Homo sapiens: one gene and its partners. The protein of the gene in region 1 purifies or fractionates together with the protein of each later gene. This does not show direct contact. Each region holds a gene or a part of one and is shown on either strand. Other genes may lie near its edges.

The links. Proteins that work in one complex are often made in the same cells at the same time.
Region 2: the proteins of CSNK1D (region 1) and CRY1 purify together in Homo sapiens (affinity purification with mass spectrometry; 4 studies listed by BioGRID and IntAct, with this or other methods). This does not show direct contact.
Region 3: the proteins of CSNK1D (region 1) and FAM110B purify together in Homo sapiens (affinity purification with mass spectrometry; 4 studies listed by BioGRID and IntAct, with this or other methods). This does not show direct contact.
Region 4: the proteins of CSNK1D (region 1) and CRY2 purify together in Homo sapiens (affinity purification with mass spectrometry; 4 studies listed by BioGRID and IntAct, with this or other methods). This does not show direct contact.

The regions. Positions count from the first base shown.
Region 1 is NC_000017.11:82,248,874-82,253,655, forward strand, and holds part of CSNK1D (casein kinase I isoform delta), read right to left. Parts: intron 4,372-4,782; coding exon 4,143-4,371; intron 3,732-4,142; coding exon 3,561-3,731; intron 2,655-3,560; coding exon 2,506-2,654; intron 1,307-2,505; exon of another isoform or gene 825-1,306; intron 730-824; coding exon 558-729; intron 142-557; coding exon 2-141; coding exon of another isoform or gene 1-1. UniProt on the Homo sapiens protein: Essential serine/threonine-protein kinase that regulates diverse cellular growth and survival processes including Wnt signaling, DNA repair and circadian rhythms. It can phosphorylate a large number of proteins.
Region 2 is NC_000012.12:106,991,958-106,996,739, reverse strand, and holds part of CRY1 (cryptochrome-1), read left to right. Parts: intron 1-3,703; coding exon 3,704-3,775; intron 3,776-3,849; coding exon 3,850-3,953; exon of another isoform or gene 3,954-4,738; coding exon of another isoform or gene 4,739-4,782.
Region 3 is NC_000008.11:58,000,333-58,005,114, forward strand, and holds part of FAM110B (protein FAM110B), read left to right. Parts: intron 1-4,782. UniProt on the Homo sapiens protein: May be involved in tumor progression.
Region 4 is NC_000011.10:45,863,785-45,868,566, reverse strand, and holds part of CRY2 (cryptochrome-2), read right to left. Parts: intron 956-4,782; coding exon 815-955; intron 1-814. UniProt on the Homo sapiens protein: Transcriptional repressor which forms a core component of the circadian clock.

The sequences.
Region 1 (4,782 bases):
CCTGTGAGGTGGACATGCGAGAGGTATCTTGTCGGCCTGTGAGGTCGGACGAGGAGATGTTGACGGGGGCCCCGCGGTGCAGCCGCATACTCACTTTCCGCTCTCTCTCCATGCCGGAGACGGGCCGGGGGGAGGTGTTAGCTGAGGACAGGGAGAGAAACGGAGTGGGCCGCCCCCGTCTGCTGCCTCTCACTCGGGGCTTTCTATGAGAGGCTGTGGCCAGAGAGGACCCTGGGCTGCCTGGACAGTCAGGACCTGGCTGTGGCCGATGGCCACCAACACTCAGATCCGGCCGGAGGGACACAAAGGGACATGGGAGCGAGGTCAAGGGGCTCACAGGGGAGGAACGTGAGATGCGGGAGGAATCACGCACACCAGCAGGTGCCGGCATTTCTAAAGGCGCCTGGGCAGCCTGGCTCATCCACCCTCAGGAGCGAGCATCGCCTGACACAGGGCACTTAGTGTCCACCACCAAGTACCCTGTTGTCCCCACCAACCCCAAGACACAAGAAGTCACCCCAGAGCCAGCCCCAGAGCGCTGGGAGGGGGGCACTCACCCGTGTGTGAGGTAGGGGTGAGGGGTGTGGGGGGAGCCACTTCCTGCGTCCCCCGCAGGCGGCCGGAGGCTGTGGAAGGGAGGCCGCGGGTAGCCGGGTTCCGCGAGTGTCTCAGCCGCTCCTCTCGGTCCCTGCGCTCCCGCTCGGCGTCATCGGCGGCCCGGCTGGCACCCTGAGGAGGCAGGAGGTGAGGCCGGAATGGAACCAGCTTTGGCAGAAAGCAACCCTAGGTCCTAGGCTGCCCCGGCCACGTGAGAAAATACCTACCAAAGGGCACTGGGACGAGACTGCCTGCAAAGCCCCCCACAGGCTGCACGTTTCTCCTCATGGGATGACAGCATCATCCCCACAAGGGGTCAGAGCCAGGCCTCTCAGCTCCCCCAACAATCGAAAAAACCCCACTCGCCATGGCATCTCCCTGTGGGCTCAGAACTTCCTTAAACTTCCAAATGGGCAGCAGCTACCCCCTGCTGCTCTGTGAACATGCTCACTAACACGTGCAGAAAGAGGAGAGGGACAGGAACCATCGGAGGCCAAAGACAGGCCCCAAATGGTGACAGCTGGGGAGGAAAGCGGGGTGGGGATGAGAGCGTTTGGTCGGACGAGGAGTACACTCAGGGTCCGGACCCTGCAGCCTCCAACAGCCTGTGCAGGTGTGGTGGCGTGGCCAGCAGCCGGCAGCCGGATCTGTGCTGCACTATCCAGATGCACGGGGGTGGGGAGGTCAGATTTTAAGCCGAGACAGCAACCTATGAAAAAGCAGATTCTAACTGCCAATGCTGTGCGGCAGGGGCCTGCAAACTACAGCCCCGGGGCCAAACCCAGGTGCCACTTCTTCCTGCAAGTACAGCTCATTGGACACAGCCACGTTCACCAGGCAACACACAGACCGACACACCTGCGGCTGCAGCACCGTGCGGCCAGCACCGCCCAGACTCCTCATGCTGCCATTTACGGAAAACGCTGGCCTAGCCTGCTCTGAGGGCCGGGTGACTCTAATGCCGCAGGAGGGTCGCTCTGATTCCTCCCGAGGCAGCACAGCCCCGGCAGAGGGACTGATCTGCCCTGCCGAGTGCACCCCTCCCGGCACCTGGGCCCCGAGGCTCGGGCCTGCCTCGCCTGCCATCTCTCCGGGGCCTCCAAGTACTCCCCACGCTGATGGGCACTTGGCAAGTAAGTCAAGATGAACAGAGTGCACCCCTCCCAGCATCTGGAGACCCCGCCCCTCCCTGGCCCCTGCACGACTACTGGACAAGGCTGCCGTTTTTGTACCCTCCCAAGAGGCAGTTCTGCTCCTCCATCAGACTGCTGCCTGGAAAAGCTCCAAATTCTATTTAAAACTGACAACAAAACAGTAAGTTTTTAATGAAGGAACACAACAGTTCCACAGGAGCTTCATTTCTGACAGCGGTGTCTGAAAAGTAATTCAGCTCAGACATGGACCCAGGGCTGGGCTGCCTGTTTTAGAGGCTCCACTGCATACTCACACCGCATCAAGAAAGCCACAGGGAAAATCAGCTCATGACAGGGTCAGTCAGGCTAGACGGGTAGCACCTCACCAGGCCCCAACCCCACTCATCTCGTGGGCACCACGACCATGTGGCACAGCGAATGGGAATGCGCACCCCCAGCCCCCACCCTCTGCCCCCAGGGCATGCTCTGGGCCCTAGCTCCGCTTGGTGACAGGGAGGGAAGGGGCCTCCTGCTGTCCACACCCAGGAATTCCATGGACCCCTCTGCGTTCCCTAATGGCGTCTTACTTCTTGGCACCCCTTTCTGGCAGGCAGACACCCACTCAGTCCAGGTCCTGCCCACTACACACTTGCCCTTCACAACCAGAGACACTCCCTATATGGTACAGCCCCTCAACAAGACGGCCGCCGGCCTCTCACTGACAAGCCATCCCCCGCACACCACACTCAGCGAACGTGCTGGCAGTGCGACTTACAAATTTGAGCATGTTCCAGTCGAACACGTAGTCATAGGAGAAGCCCTGGCGATGGAACAGATTCCGGAAAAGCTGCCGCAGGTACGAGTAGTCAGGCTTGTCGTCAAAACGCAAGGAACGGCAGAAATTCAGGTATGTGGCAAATTCGGCTACAAAACAAGAAACTCAAAGCTAACTCATGAAACCCAACTGCGACTCAAGGTGTCTCTGCCAACGTCGCTGTCTACCTCCTGCTGCTGCACACTCAAGGGGAGAAGGACAGATGCAAAACACCTGTCAGATTTCTAAGACCTGAAGCCTTGAGAAAGCATCGAAAAGTATTCAAGTCACGGCCGGGTGCGGCGGCTCACGCCTGTCACCCCAGCACTCTAGGAGGCTGAGGAGGGCGGATCACGAGGTCAGGAGATCAAGACCATCCTGGCTAACACAGTGAAACCCCATCTCTACTGAAAAAAAAAAAAAAAAAGTTCTAGAGCGTGGTGGCGGGCGCCTGTAGTCCCAGCTACCGGGGAGGCTGACGCAGGAGAATGGTATGAACCCGGGAGGCGGAGCTTGCAGTGAGCCGAGATCACGCCACTGCACTCTAGCCTTGGCGACAGAGTGAGACTGTGTCTTAAAAAAAAAAAAGAAGTCATAAAGCACAATTTAGTTTCATTTGAGGTGTGTATCCTGGGGCAATCCTACAAATGCAAAGGAAATCTCCCGAGCTCCTGGAGGGGGCCAGAGAGGGCAGCCACTGCAGAGAGAGGCCCCACCACTGCCTGTCCATCCCTTTCCAGCCACTTGGGGCCCTGAGGCTCGGGCCTGCCTTGCCTGCCATCTCTCCAGGGCCTCCAAGTACTCCCCACGCTGATGGGCACTTGGCAAGTAAGTCAAGATGAACAGGAGGGCAGGCTGTTACCTCCATACACAAAAGCGCCCCGCTTTCCTGCCACCACCCCTTTGGAAGGTGAGCAACTCTTCTGACAAAACCCAGACTGAGCCGTCTCGGCACACCCGACACATATGCAACCCCTGTGAGCAGCTCCGCTGAGAAGAGGCCTCCAGAGACTTACAAGGGTAGCCTTTACACAACACTTCGATGGGGGTGGACATTTTCTTCTCGCTAATCCTTTCGTATTTCTGTCTCTTGGTGGCAGCCTTCAGCCCCTGCCAGGGGAGAGAGCCCAGGTTGAAGTACATTAGCACGTAGCCCAGAGACTCCAAGTCATCTCTTCGGGATTGTTCTGAAAAGAAAAGGGAAAGGCGTGAAGAACGGCACTTGCGTGCTCACGTCAAAGCAAAAGACCCGGCTGGCCGTTCCAGTGGAGACTAGCCTCAGACACACATGCCCAGATCACTCCAGCTGGCACTTCCAGTGGAGACGAACCTCGGACACACATGCCCAGATCACTCTCACCCAGAGCTGCCCCTCATGCATACTAAGGAAATTCCCAAACACATCACAGGTGACTCAGAAATGTCCCAGCATCCGCCTGCCCCCATACACCTGGCAGTCACGAGCCAGCCTGTCTGCCGCAAAGGTCTGATGACACGCTTGCAGCCCCAGCTCCCCGAGAGGCTGGCCTCTCCCTGGGCTGAGGCATGGACGCGCCCAAAGGCACCCCAGGTCAGTGACCCCATGCCCAGGGGCTCACCAATTCCAAGGTGCGTGTTGATGGAGGCGTACCGCGCCGTCCCCGTGAGGTTCTTGTTCTCACGATAGGGGATGTGCTGGTGGGTGCGTGCATCCCGGTACTTCTTGGCCAGCCCGAAGTCGATGATGTACACCAGGTTGCCCTTCTTCCCCAGGCCCATGAGGAAGTTGTCTGGCTTCACATCCCGGTGGATGAAGTTCTTTGAATGAATGTATTCGATGCGACTGATCTGTGAGCAGAGCAAGGGCGCGAGATGGCACCCCAGGGCAGTCTCAGGGAGGGACCGCTCAACTGTGGGACACTACATCAGTGGCTGCATTGTTCCTGCCCCTCAGCCACAGCAGGGTAGTTTAACAATTAGCGAGGGGGATGCCGAACTGACCAAATTGTTCCCCCAGGTGCCTGCAGCAACCCTCCACACTCCACCCTCCACAGGCCTAGGCGCTTTGCCTTCAGCTCCCACAAAACAGAGAGGTGAGGCGACAGAGAGGGGACAACCCGCCACTAGACATCGGTCTCTCCCAGCACTGTTCTCTGCACAGACTACACACCAGGATTAGCAGAGAAACTGCACGGAGGTGCTTAGGAATCACGTGTGTTCCTGAGAGACTGAGGAACCCACTGAATGGAAACGTGCTAT
Region 2 (4,782 bases), on another chromosome or scaffold:
ATATTAGTTTTTGGCTTTGACCAAAAATAGCATGAAGCTCAGTAATTTGATTAAAAAATAGGACAGCATCAGTGAGAATGGTGATTATTAAAAAGTCAAGAAACAACAGATGCTGGTGAGGATGCAGAGAAAAAGGAAGGCTTTTACATTGTTGATGGGATTGTAAATTAGTTCAACCATTGTGGAAGAGAGTGTGGTGATTCCTCAAAGATCTAGAAGCAGGAATACCATTTGACTGAGCAATCCCATTACTGGGTATATACCCAAAGGAATATAAATCATTCTGTTATAAAGATACATGCACACGTATGTTCATTGCAGCACTATTCACATTAGCAAAGACGTGGAATCAACCTAAATGCCAGTCGATGATAGACTAGATAAAGAAAATGTGGTACATATGTACCATGAAATACTATGCAGCCATAAAAAGGAACGAGATCATGTTCTTTGCAGGGACATGATGGAGCTTGTAGCCATTATCCTCAGCAAACTAAGGCAGGAACAGAAAACCAAACACCTCATGTTCTTGCTTGTAAGTGGAAGTAGAATGATGAGAACACATGGATACATGCGGAGAACAACACATACTGGGGCCAGGTGCAGTAGCTCACACTTGTAATCCCAGCACTTTGGGAGGCCGAGGTGGGTGGATCACCTGAGGTTGGGAGTTTGAGACCAGCCCCTGACCAACATGGAGAAACCCCCGTCTCTACTAAAAAGACAAAATTGGCCGGGCGTGGTAGCGCATGCCTGTAATCCCAGCTACTTGGGAGGCTGAGGCAGGAGAATCACTTGAACCCAGGAGGCAGAGGTTGTGGTGAGCTGAGATCGCGCCATTGCACTCCAGCCTGGATAACAAGAGCAAAACTCCATCTCAAAAACAAAAAACAACAAAACACACATGCTGGGGTCTGTTGGGGGGGCAGGGGCAGGGAGAGCATTAGGAAGAATAGCTAATGCATGCTGGTCTTAATACCTAGGTGATGGGTTGATCTGTGCAGCAAACCCCCATGGCACATGTTTGCCTATGTAACAAACCTGCACATCCTGCACATGTACCCCAGAACTTAAAATAAAAATTGAAGGGAAAAAAAAGAAAAAAGAAATCTATACATGTGATAAAAGAGCATAAAATCATACAAACACTTTGTATCAATGTCAATACCTGGTTATATTGTTGTACTGTAGTTTCATAAGATGTCACTAAGAAGATAGGGAAACAGGACCTCTTTGTACTAACTTTACAACTGTTTGTGAATCTATATTTTTCAAAATAAAAAAAACAGGATAAAAACAGGGTAGCATTTGAGGAATGCTTTTTTAAGTCAGATGTTCTAAGTTGATATTAAGAATAAAACCTTTTAAAAACTGAACCTTTTTGAATTCAGAAATGTCCTGCATCCTCATGAAAACAGCATGTATTTTATCCTCCAAGAATTAGTTTTGGGAGAAGGGGACAAAAGCACTCACATTTTGACTGCCTACCTTTGCCCAGTAGATAGTAAGGGATTTTTGCATACTTTCTCACAGTAACCTGGGGAGGAGGTAGTGGGATCCTCATTTTATATTTGGGGAAATAATCCTAGAAAGATTAGGTAACTTAACCAAGATCCCACAGTTAGTAAGTAGTTGAGCTAAGATTCAGATCCAAGTCTGACTAGCTCCAAAGCTTGTACTTCTTCCTGCATCATTGGGCCTCCTCTGCAAATGGAATGCCATAAGTGTTTACAAGAGAAAATATTTTATTCCTGGAATGTGATCCACCCAGCAGTCGACAGTTGCCAGTGATGGCAGTATACTTGAGAAATGTTCCTTCTCAGTATCTCCTACAATTTGAATAAACTTCCACAAGATAATCATTTCAAAAGTTCTTTCAGATCTCTTGTTCAGTTCACAGCCTGCCTTGTCAGCCCACACATGAGTGAGGGACAGAAGCTCTGTGAAGCACTAAGATAACAGGCAGGTAGCAATGGGCTAGGAACCAAGGGTTGGGCTAATACACAATGATGGCACAGACTGCTTCTTAGACCACTCAAACCTGTGTCGTTTATTTGGAATTATCTTCAAAAGCTAATCATAGTAGCAGGTTAAATTGGGACAATTTTGCTTCACAAATGTATATAGGGTAGTTTATTATATAATAGAAGAATTAATAAATCTTGAAATTATTTTAATCATGTAAATATTTGCCTGTAACATAGTTTGTAGCCAGCTTCTTGGAGGCTTTCAAAAGACATGAGACATGAAAAGCTAAGTAGAACTTAAGTATAAATGGGGGTGTGGAGGGAAAACAAAAACAAATGAAAAAGTGATAAATTATAAGATGCTGCCTCCATGTGCAATATGAGAAAAGGGAGAGATTATTGAGAGCTGAAGGGACTAGAGAAACTTTCTTGAAAGGTGGCAGGATTGAGTAGCATTTGGGTAGTCAGATGAAGGAAAAAAACATTTTAGACCTGGAAATGGGAAATTGTGAAAAGACACGGCTTGGGCTATGCTATTAATATTAAACATTTCTCCTCTCAGGTTTCTGCCCCATTTGAAAGGACTTAAATGCTTCTAAAGCATATCCTTTTATGCCTTACACTTATCCTGTCTGTAGGCTTTTATAGTACCTTACAAGGCATGTCAAAGGGCAAAATTCTTTTACTTGTCTTAGTTTTTTGTTTGTTTGTTTTTGTTTGTTTTTTTAATGACTGTGGAACATTCTTAATCTCTGCAACACAAATTGCATTTTTCTCTGCTCATCTTTGTATTTGTGTGTGTGTGCACATGTGCTCAGGAAAGGAATAAACTATACATAGAAGTCTTACTTTTGTTCTTATAATAAAACAGACTGTAATATGTTTACTACTGTAGCAATATGTTTTAGTTTTTATTTAACTTTTAGGTTTTTTTATTGTAAAATATCAGTTCATCGGCATTATTAGTCATTAGGGAAATGCAAATTAAAACAACTATGGGATAGTACTTCATACTCACTTAGGGTGAGCAACTGCCACTGATTGCCTGGGATTGAAGTTAATTAAAACGAAAGTAAGTGCACAGTCTTGTTCAGGCCATAAGGTGTTGACCTATCCACCTGCTCGTGGATAGGTCCAGAATGCTCATATTTTTCCATAAACTGGACACACTGACAGAAATGTTTCCCTAAAACATACTTCTCTGTTCTAGCCAACCTATTCTCCTATAATAGTGTTTGTTTTTAGAAGGGTTGATAGGATTGCTTAGGCTAGGTAACTGCCACATAGTCTGTGTCTTCTGCTTGTCGTATGATTTGAATTGTTTAACTCATCGGGCAGGCCCTTATTCCCTTATCCTCAAGGAAATATGTTTGGAGGAGCTCTGAAGGAAAAGCGTGGGAAAAGGGACAAGAGTGAGGGAGGAATGTCTATCTCACTCTTGCCCCTATGTTTTACCTTCATGGTCAAGTTTCAAATTGTCATCTAGTAAGGAAATGTTTTTTAGAAAATGATCATCAATGATTTTTCCTTTGAGCTGTCAACACTTCTGTGAGCCTAAATTTAAGTTTTCCTGGTTTGAGCATGTGATTTTTGGTTCATAGGAAGATTGAGATTTAGTCTTAAAAGCATATAAATGACCTTAAGTACAAGCGCTAAAAGTTGGATTTGTAGACTTAATAATACATACATCTTGGATTTGATTTTAAGTAATTTTACTGTGTTTTAAATACTAACAGGTTGCTCTCAAGGGAGTGGTATTTTACACTATGCTCATGGCGACAGTCAGCAAACTCACCTGTTGAAGCAAGGTAAGAATGAAGCATTGGAGCATACTGTTCTTTTTCCTTTTCCTATCTTAAACATACATTTTTTAAATGTGCAGGAAGAAGCTCCATGGGCACTGGTCTCAGTGGTGGGAAACGTCCTAGTCAGGAAGAGGACACACAGAGTATTGGTCCTAAAGTCCAGAGACAGAGCACTAATTAGGTAAATATTTTAGAGCTGTATTTCTTGCTTTAGAAGAGTATATAATTAACATAAATTAAGATAATTTCAAAAATGGAGCAAATCTCTATTTTCAAACCAGAAAATCTTGAGGCATTAATTTTTAAGCAATTTTTACAAACTCAGTTAATTTTTGGTCAAGAGACATGCATCTGTACTGGAGAAATTGTTGCACCAGTTTTATATTCATCTGAACCAATGCTCTTTAAATTAGAGATGTTTATGATTTTGTGGTCAAGTTTTTTCTTAGAAAAAGACAACTTTTTTATTTCCTTACTATGTAACTATGAGTCTAAAACAATTAAAGTGGCCTGTTTATTTTAGTGACATTAATATAATCTTTTTATGAACTTTCCCCTAAATCTTTGCCTCTTAAATGTTGATAAATTTCTTTTATCTGTTATGATGCTTCTAAAATCTAAATTATTTCCAATTTGGGAATAGTTCAAAATTTTTTAAAATGCTGGCCCTTATTAGAAGTATCAGAAAGCCTTGCCTGCATTCAATTTAATTGGATTTGGGATGTCATTTTGTGATTTAAATTAATATGAAAAATATTTATACGTTGGATTTGCCAGTTTTTAAAAATTTTCTGTTTCTTCAGTTTCTAACACTGTTTACATTTTTTATTGCTTAGTTTTTTTATGTCAACCTAATTAGACTATAAGTATCTTGAAGATAAGGTCAATAAACACTCATCACATTTTTGTCATTGAATTATTTGCAATCAAGCTTTACCTAGTTTTTTTTTCCCCCTTAAATCACAGAAAACATTCAGGAGGAATACTGTTGCAGCTGAAATTGGTGGGGA
Region 3 (4,782 bases), on another chromosome or scaffold:
TGCTAAGTTCTTTTATGTTACTTATGATATCACATCTCATTGTAATGACTTTTGTTAGTACATTGATTTTGATGCTGTTTGTATTTTTCAACAGGAAATCATACTCATTTTAGAAATAAGAATATTTGTGTATTCTTCTTCAGGCTTTTAATCTTGCACAGTTTTTGCTTGTTGACTACAATCCTTGGGTGAAGTTTAATGAATAAAATGCCAAGATTTATCTTCAATCCTTTTGTAGACACTCCACATTCATGGATGTGTATATATATTTAGTCACACACGTGCCCAGACATGTTAGTCAGTTTACTTTCTCTGGCTACCACGGGGGCCACCATTTCTACTCTTGGTCAAAAAGAGACATTTGGAAATTGGGCATTCAGCAATTTTGGGAAATACCAGTGAATCCTGATTACGCTTGTGTGTTTTTACCACATAGTTAAAACAAGGTGAGAGTTGGGAGGTTCATTGTACAGTTGACTGTGAGTTGGGGATTTAAAAAAAATTCCTTTAATCTATCCCTAGCCAGTGTCCTTTCAAATGATCATTTATTGGAATGTTGTGATTTTAAAATCAGATTTTTTCCCCCCAATACATTTTATTCTTGTTTAGTGACAATGATAGAAGAAGAGAAATCATTGTGTGGGTTGTTAATATGACTAGTCATGGGTGCTCTTCACAGCTTCTGTTGGCTTTGTTCCAACCTGCAACATGCACCCGGGTGTGTAACCATAAACCGTTTTATAATGTTTTGGTAAAGTGGCCACAGTTTTTGCGGGGATAGACTGCCTGCCTAGTAACTTAGTTCCTTAATTTAATGAAGATTTTTTTTTCTAGTTCTTCTTAGTGAATCTGTATGTTCCTCTCTTATTGGTGGAGAGTAGTACAGTCATATAAATATATATTTTGTGGGTAGTTGAAATGTTCTTTTAGGTAGTGCCAGAGAATATCTGTGGTCTGCCTGTATTATTTGGAAATTGACTTCAAATGAATTTTCCATGGAAGCAGTGAAAGTGCCACACTTGTCATGGAGCTAGTGTGTGCAGGTGTGTGTGTGTGTGTGAGAAAGGGGCCTAGTGTTCAGTATACACATAGCATTTCCTGTTTTTCCAGTTAGAAGTGGCTCTGCCCTTGCCTCAATGTGACATGTGTTTTAACTCATGTGGCCTGATTTGCTTGTTTGATTTTTCTTACAGGTATTTTTCATTCCAGGATTCACTAGCGTTACAAGATCGAACTGTTTTGATTGTTCATCCCTGGTTGTTATCTCTACCAGCCTTTTTCTGAGTAATTTCAGTGTGAAGCATGCTGCTGTTTAGGTACTGTGAGTTATCCATAAAGGGACCAAATCGCAGGGCCCTTTAATTAAGCATACCGGCATATTAGCAAATACCTTTATACGTTTTGTGCCAGAGATACTTAAGTATCTTCATTTTCTTTGGACTTTTCATTTTACCAGATGGTATTAATTATTCACATATACCTTGTATTAGTGAGAGAACCAGAGAACCAGAACCAATAGAATATACATAGAAAAAAAGAGATTTATTACAAGGAATTGTCTTACATGATTATGGAGGCTGAGAAGTCCCATGATCTGCTGTCTCCAAGATGGAGACCCAGGAGAACCAATGGTATAAGTTCTAGTATAAGGTCAGGAAAATATAGATGTATTAGCTAAGCAGCTAGAGAGAGAGAGAGAGAAAGAGAGAGACAGAGAGAGAGACAGAGAGAATTCAATCTTTCTTCACCTTTTTGTTCCATTTGGGCCTTCTACTGGTTGGATAATGCCCACCCACATTGGGGAGGGCCTTTTCCTTTACTCAGTCCATCAATTCAATGCTGATTTCCTCCAGAAACACCCACAGGTACAGCCAGAAATAATGTTTAACAAGATATCTGGGCACCCCAGTAGACCAATCAAGTAGACACATAAAATTAACAATCACATATCTGTAATACAATCAGAGTCAGGTTTTGTTAAAACATTTTTGTAAAAGTATACTTCCCAAGTTGGTTTAAATGAGCTGACTCCAAGAGTGTTAACACCAGGTACCACTTCTCTAAGTCCTGCTTCTCTACAAAGTCTTTCTCAGTAGTGCTAGCAACATCATACTTTTTCCTTCCTGACCAACACTTCCTTTATTGAACCAATTGATGGCAGCATTTTTGGTGTATTCTTGGTTTTGTGAGTGTATCTTCTGTAAGACAGTAAGTTCATCCACAATGAAGACAGTATCTACTGGCATACCTTGGAGACAAATTGTGGGTTTGATTCCAGACCACCACCATAAAGTGAGTATTACAATAAAGTGAGTCACTTGAATTTTTTGGTTTCTGGGTGCATATAAAAATTATGCTTAAACTATACTGTAGTCTATTAAGTGTGCAATAGCATTGTCTAAGAAAACAATGTACATACCTTAATTAAAATACTTTATTGCTAAAAAATGCTGATGATCATCTGAGCCTTCAGCAAGTCATACTCTTTCTGCTGCTGGAGGTTCTTGCCTTAGTGTTGATGGCTGGTGACTGATCAGGGTGGCAGTTACTGCATGTTTGGGTAGCTGTGGCAGTTTCTTAAAATAAGACAGTAATGAAGTTTGCTGCATCAACTGACTCTTCCTTTCACCAAAGATTTCTCTAGAGCATGTGTTGCTGTTTGATAGCACTTTCCCCATAGTAGAACTTTCAAAATTGTAGTCAGTCTTCTCAAACCCTGCCACTGTTTTATCAACTAAGTTATGTAATATTCTAAATTGTTTGTTGTCCTTTCAACAGTGTTTAGAGCATCTTCAGCAGGAGTAGATTCCATCTCAAGAAATGAGTCTTTATTTTTTCATCCATAATAAGCAACTCCTCATCTGTTAGTTTTATCATGAGATTGCAGCAATTCAGTCACATCTTCAGGCTCCGCTTGTAACTCTAGTTCTCTTGCTATTTCCACCGGATCTGCAATTACTCCTCCATGGGAGTCTTGAACCTCTCAAAGTCATCTATGAGAGTTGGGATCAACTTCTTCCAAACTCCTGTTAATGTTAATATTTTGATCTCCTCCCATGAATCATGACCGTTCTTAATGGTATTTAGAATGGTGAATCCTTTCCAGAAGGTTTTTGATTTACTTTTCCACTTTTCCTGGATACATCAGAGCAATCAGTATCTATGGCAGCTATAGCCTTACAAAGGGTATTCCTTAAGTAATAAGACTTGAAAGTTGAAATTACTCATTGATCCATGTGCTGCAGAATGAATGTTGTGTTAGCAGGCATGAAAACAACATTTATGTCTTTGTACATCTCTATCAGAGCTTTTGGGTGACCAGGGGCATTGTAATTGAGCAGTAATATTTTGAAAGGAATCTTTTTCCTGAGCAGTGGGTCTCAACAATGGTCTTAAAATATTCAGTAGATCATACTGTAAACAGATGTGCTGTCATCCAGGCTTTGTTGTGTAGAGCACTGAGAGAGTAGACTTAGTATCATTCTTAAGAGCCCTGGGACATTCAGAATGGTAAGTCAGCATTGGCTTCAACTTCAAGTTACCAACTGCATTAGCTTCTAATGAGAGAGTCAGCCTGTCTTTTGAAGCTTTGAAGCCAGACATTGACTTCTCCCTCTAGCTATGAAAGTTTTGACCAGCAGTCCCCAACATTTTTGGCACCAGGGACCAGTTTTGTGGAAGACAGTTTTTCCACGGACTGGGGGATGGGGTGGGGGAGGGGGATGGTTTCATGATGATTCAAGCTCATTACATTTTTCATTAGATTCTCCTAAGAAGCACGCAACCCAGATCCCTTGCATGCACAGTTCACAATAAGGTTCGTGCTCCTTTGAGAATCTAATGCCTCCACTGATCTGACAGAAGATGGATTGCTTGCCTGCCACTCACCTCTTGCTGTGCAGCCTAGTTCCTAAACCCAGGGATTGGGGTCCCCTGTCCTAGATGACATCTTCTTCCAATATAAGGCCATTTTGTCTACACTGAAAACCTGTTGTCTAGTTGTAGCCATCTTCATCAATGATCTTAGCTCCATATTCTAGATAACTTGTGCAGCTTCTACATCAGCACTTGCTGCTTCACCTTGCACTTCTATGTTATGGAGATGGCTTCTTTCCTTAAATCTCATGAACTGCCGGGCACACTGGCTCATACCTGTAATCCCAGCACTTTGGGAGGCCAAGGTGGGTGGATCACTTGAGGTCAGGAGTTCAAGACCAGCCTGGCCAACATGGCGAAACCCTGTCTCTACTAAAGATGCAAAAATTAGCCAGGCCTGGTTGTGCGTGCCTGTAGTCCCAGCTACATGGGAGGCTGAGGCAGGAGAATTGCTTGAGCCCGGGAAGCGGAGATTGCAGTGAGCTGAGATCGCACCACTGCACTCCAGCCTGGGCGACAGAGCAAAACCCCATCTCAAACAAACAAACAAACCTCATGAACCAACGTCTGCTAGCTTTCAATTATTCCTTTGCAGCTCTGTCATCTCTCTCAGCCTTCATTGAAGAGAGTTAAGGCCTTGCTCTGGATTGGGCCTTGACTTACGGGAATATTGTGGCTGGTTTAATTTTTTATCCAGACCACTAAAACTGTCTCCCGAGAAGCGATAAGGCTGTTTTGCTTTCTCATCCTTTGTGAGTTAGCTGGAGTAGCAGTTTAAGTTTTCTTCAAGAACTTTCCTTTGCATGCCCAACTTGGTTCACTGTTTGGCTAAAGAGGCCTAGTTTTGACCTGTCGTGGCTTTTGACATGCCTTCCTCATTAAGCAAAATCATTTATAGCGGTTGAT
Region 4 (4,782 bases), on another chromosome or scaffold:
CAGGACAATTGCTTGTGCCCAGGAGTTCGAGACCAGCCTGGGCAACATAGCAAGACCCTATCTCTACAAAGAATGTAAAAAATTAGCTCTACTTGAGAGGCTGAGGCAGAGGGATTGCTTGAGCCCAGGAGTCTGAGGTTTCAGTGAGCTGTGATCAGGCCACACTACACTCTAGCCTGGGTAACACAGCTAGACTTTGTCTCTTAAATAAACAACAGAAACAAAAAACATAGGCACAAGATGAGGTGATCCCTCTGAATGCTGACTGTGTTGCCCTCTCTCCTTCTGGGGACAGTTAACACAGGCTTATTTGCTTCTTGTCTGTATAGCACAGCCCTGTGTGCAGCCCCTCCACACCACTCCCTCCATCACTGATGGGCAACTGCTGTTCCTGGACTCCCCTTTTGAATGCTGTGGACACAGCTCCAGAGCGGGCAGCTATGCTCTTCCACTTCAGACTGGCTCCAGCCTCACCCTCTCCATGCCTCTCACCCTGGGGACCTCGCCCCTGTCCACCAGCTGCCAGAGGATATGCCACCTCTAGGGTCACACCTGAGGCCTGCTTTTCTGCCTGTCCTTCTGCTCTACATGATGGTCTGGGCTTCATTCTGGTGGGCAGTTCACTCTGTGCTTGGCTCTGCCCTCTTGGATATTGAGTCTTCTCTCCTCCTCCGGACTATCTGCACACACTTAGGCCCTTCCAGGGGCCATAGCCCAACCCCCACCCACCAGTGCCTTTTTTAGGGTGACTGACAAGCCCAAAAGGCCTGGCTGCAGGCCTTAGGTGCAATGTGGGCAGGTATGTCCCCCTTACCTTTTTATACAGGTCCCACAGGCGGTAGTAGAAGAGGCGGCAGGAGAGACAACCAAAGCGCAGGTAGGGGCTGAGGCCTGTGGGGCTGGCCAGGAGGGAGTTGGCGTTCATTCGGGGTCTCTCATAGTTGGCAACCCAGGCCTACAGCAGAAAGAGAAGGTGGCAAAAGGAAAGGCTTGGATGTAACAGAGGAAAAAATGGAGGCATTGGGTGGTTAAGGAATCTGCCTACGGTCACAGAACAGCCAGCCATGGAGCCATGGAACACTGTGCTTGTCCAGCCGATTTTGAGACGGAACCACCATCAGACCAAACAACGAGTCTATGTCATTCTCTGACTTGCTCTTTAATTTGTGGGGTGACTGTGAACACGTTGTTACTTCCCTCAGCTACGTATCTATTAAATAAGAACAAAATTTCCAATCTTCTGTGGATTAAAATGAGATATGAAAGAATTCTGAAAGCACTGAATGAACTCTCTAATTATACAGCAGGAAACAAGGCTTCTATGTTACAGAAAAGAATATCTCAGTCCCTTCTCTAGTCACTAGCGGCCCTGAGGTTGTATCACAGACACCAGGGACTTCGCATTATTGTTCAACAGCAGCTGGGGAAGGAGGAAACTTCCAATCCATTCCTGGGGACCAATGGAATCATTCATTTCTGGGGCCATGTGTCATATAACATTACTGGTCATGTTTTTATCATCACTGGTTGCTGGCATAGGACTTTACTTTCCTGACTTGCTGTTCCATGCAGTCTCTCACGACTTTTTTTATTTATTTTTTTTTCTTTTTTGAGACAGAGTTTTGCTCTTGTCACCCAGGCTGGAGTGCAGTGGCGTGATCTCGGCTCACCGCAACCTCCACCTCCCGGGTTCAAGGGATTCTCCTGATCGCCCACCTTGGCCTCCCAAAGTGCTGGGATTATAGGTGTGAGCCACTGTGCCCGGCCTATTTCCACTTTCTTAACTCCCAACATCCTCTCCTCCTCTCCATGATACTGTTTCACAACCTTGACTCTCTTCAGCCTCCTGAGTAGCTGGGATTATAGGCACCTGCCACCACACCTGGCTAATTTTTGTATTTTTAGTAGACATGGGGTTTCGCCATGTTGGCCAGGCTGGTCTCTAACTCCAAACCTCAGGTGACCACAAGGCTGGTTCCCACAAGAGTCTCCTGTGACTTCTGTGCCACTGAGTCCTGCAGGCACTTTCTGACCTTGTATTTTGGGATCTCTCAGCAGCGCTATACCTGCCAACTGTGCTGTCTTATCCTCTTGATTCCTTGGCCTCTGTGACTCCACATCTCCTGGTATCTCCCAGCTGCCTGGCGCTCTTGGTCTTTCATCAGCTCCACCTCCTCTGCCTCTCCCTTAAATGTGGGTACCCAGGGCTCAGCTCTAGGTTCTCTACTCAACTGTGTGCCTCAGCAAGCTCATCCAGGCCCATGGCTCCCAGTTCCACCCCTTTGCAGACAACCACCACATCCATAGCTCTAGCCCAGATTGCTCCACCCAGCTGCCTGCTAGAAACCTCTACTTGGCTGCCTCTCAGGCAGCTCAAGGGAGATGTGCCCTTTTCTTTTAACCCACCCTTCCATTGGCCTCCCTACCTCAGATAATACACTGCTAGCTACCTAGCTGCCCAAGGCACAATCCTAGCCATCACCTTTGTCCCCTCACCAAGTCCTGTCAATTCTACTGCCTAAATATTTCCCAAATCTGTCCTTTTCTTTCCATTCCCTGCTGCCACCAACCTGGTTCAGGCTAAGGTCATATCTAGACTGGACAACTGTGGCAGCCTCCTGACTGGCCTCCCTGCGTCCACTCCCATCCCCCGCTAACTCATTCTCCACGCTGGGACCAGAGTAATGTAATGCCTGTTGCTCGGGATAATGTACACAGTGGGCTTCCTGTTGCTCTGAGGACAGAGCCCAAATCTTCATGAAAGCTTCTGTGGCTCCCCAGCACCCAGGCCTTTCCAGCTCTGTCTCTTGCCCCTTTTTTTTGAGACAGGGTCAGGGTGGAGTGCAGTGGTGTGATCTCGGCTCACTGTACCCTCCGCCTCCTGCTGCCCCTCTTCTTTACGCATCTGCTCTCACTGGCCTTTGCCTCTGCACAAGCAGCTGCCTCTGGACCACTGTCTTCCTTTCCCTCACCTTCACCTGGTTAACTGAGACTCTTCCTTCAAGTCGCAACCTCAAGGCTTCCTCCTCTGCAGGTAACCCCTGTGGTATCAGGTTAAGCACTTCTAACAGATACTAGGTATTTTTGCGTGTACACACCCTTGCTAGCCCCCAGCTTTTAAAATATTTTTATTTTAAATGAAACTTGGATACAGAAAATCACACACATGTGTGACTTAATGAATTATTCTAAGGCAAACATCCACGCAATAGCCACCAAGGTTTGGGAAACAGAGCTTTGACAGCCACCCCAAGAGTCTATGTGCTCATCCCAGGAATAGTTCCCTCCTGCCCCCCAGTATATGCAACCCCTACCTCAGCTTTTATAATAAACACGTTCTGCATTTCTGAAATGTTTACATTTTTCTATTTTGGCAAAACGTTTGAAAGGAAGGACTTTATCTTTTCACAGTTATTCTTTGTGTTTAAGTAGCTTTTTTTTTTTTACCCAAATGTGCATTCCTAGGTATTACAATTTAGTCTTGGCCATTTAAAAAACTTTATTTCTGCCCGGGTGTGGTGGCTCATGCCTGTAATTCCAGCACTTTGGGAGGCTGAGGCAGGAGGATCACTTGCGGTCAGGAGTTTGAGACCAGTCAGGCCAACAGGGTGAAACCCTGTCTCTACTAAAAGGACAACAATTAGCCAGGCATGATTGTGGGAGCCTGTAATCCCAGCTACTCAGTTTTCTTTTTTTTTTGAGACAGAGTCTCATTCTGTCAACCAGGCTGGAGTGCAGTGGCATGATCTCGTCTCACTGCAACCTCCGCCTCCCAGGTTCAAGCGATTCTCGTGCCTCAACCTCCCAAGTAGCTGGGATTACAGGCACTCGCCACCATGCCTAACTAGTTTTTGTATTTTTAGTAGAGATGAGGTTTCACTATGTTGGCCAGGCTGGTCTCGAACTCCTGACTTCAAGTGCTCCACCTGCCTCGGCCTCCCAAAGTGCTGGGATTCTTTTTCTTTTATTTCTGAGACCCCACTCTCTGTCACCCAGGCAGGAGTGCAGTGGCATGACTTCCTGGGCTTAAGTGATTCTCCCACCTCAGCCTCCCAAGTAGTTGGCACTACAGGCACATGCTGCCACACCCGGCTAATTTGTTTTTATTTAGAGATGAGGGCTTGTCATGTTGCCCAGGCTGGTTTTGAACTCCTAGGTTCAAGAGATCCTCCTGCCTTGGCCTCCCAAAGTGCTAAGATTACAGGTGTGAGTCACTGTGCCTGGCCTTAAAAAAAACTTTAATATGTTATTTAATTTTCTTTTAATCTGCACATTTTATGCCATTTTTTTCTTTTCCTTTCCATTGTTCTGGGAAAGAATCCAGGCCATCTGACTTGCCAAGATTCCCACAGTCTGGATTTTGCTGACTGTATACTCATGGTGCAGTTCAACAAGTGCTGTGTCCTGTGTATCACCTGCACATTGGTGGCTAGTACCAGAAACTGGACTGGACTCAGGTTTGATCCCTTTGACAAGACTACAGGGGGCACATAATGCTTGCCTCCTTCTATGGTGTCAGCAGTCACCAATACATAATGCATCATTATTGAGGGTTACAAAATGGTGGTATTCAAATTCCACCATTCCTTTTTAATTTAATAATCAGAATACTTTTATAGAGAGATGCTTGCCCTCATCTACTATTGAGTAACCCAGTGGTAAAGATCATGTAGCTTCCTCTGCTTTTCAGTAACAGCATCTCATATTCCTGTGGAGAATCAGCCTTCCCTGATCCTAGTCCGAGTGGATAAAGCAGAGCTAAACCTACCTTCCAGTTCTGGG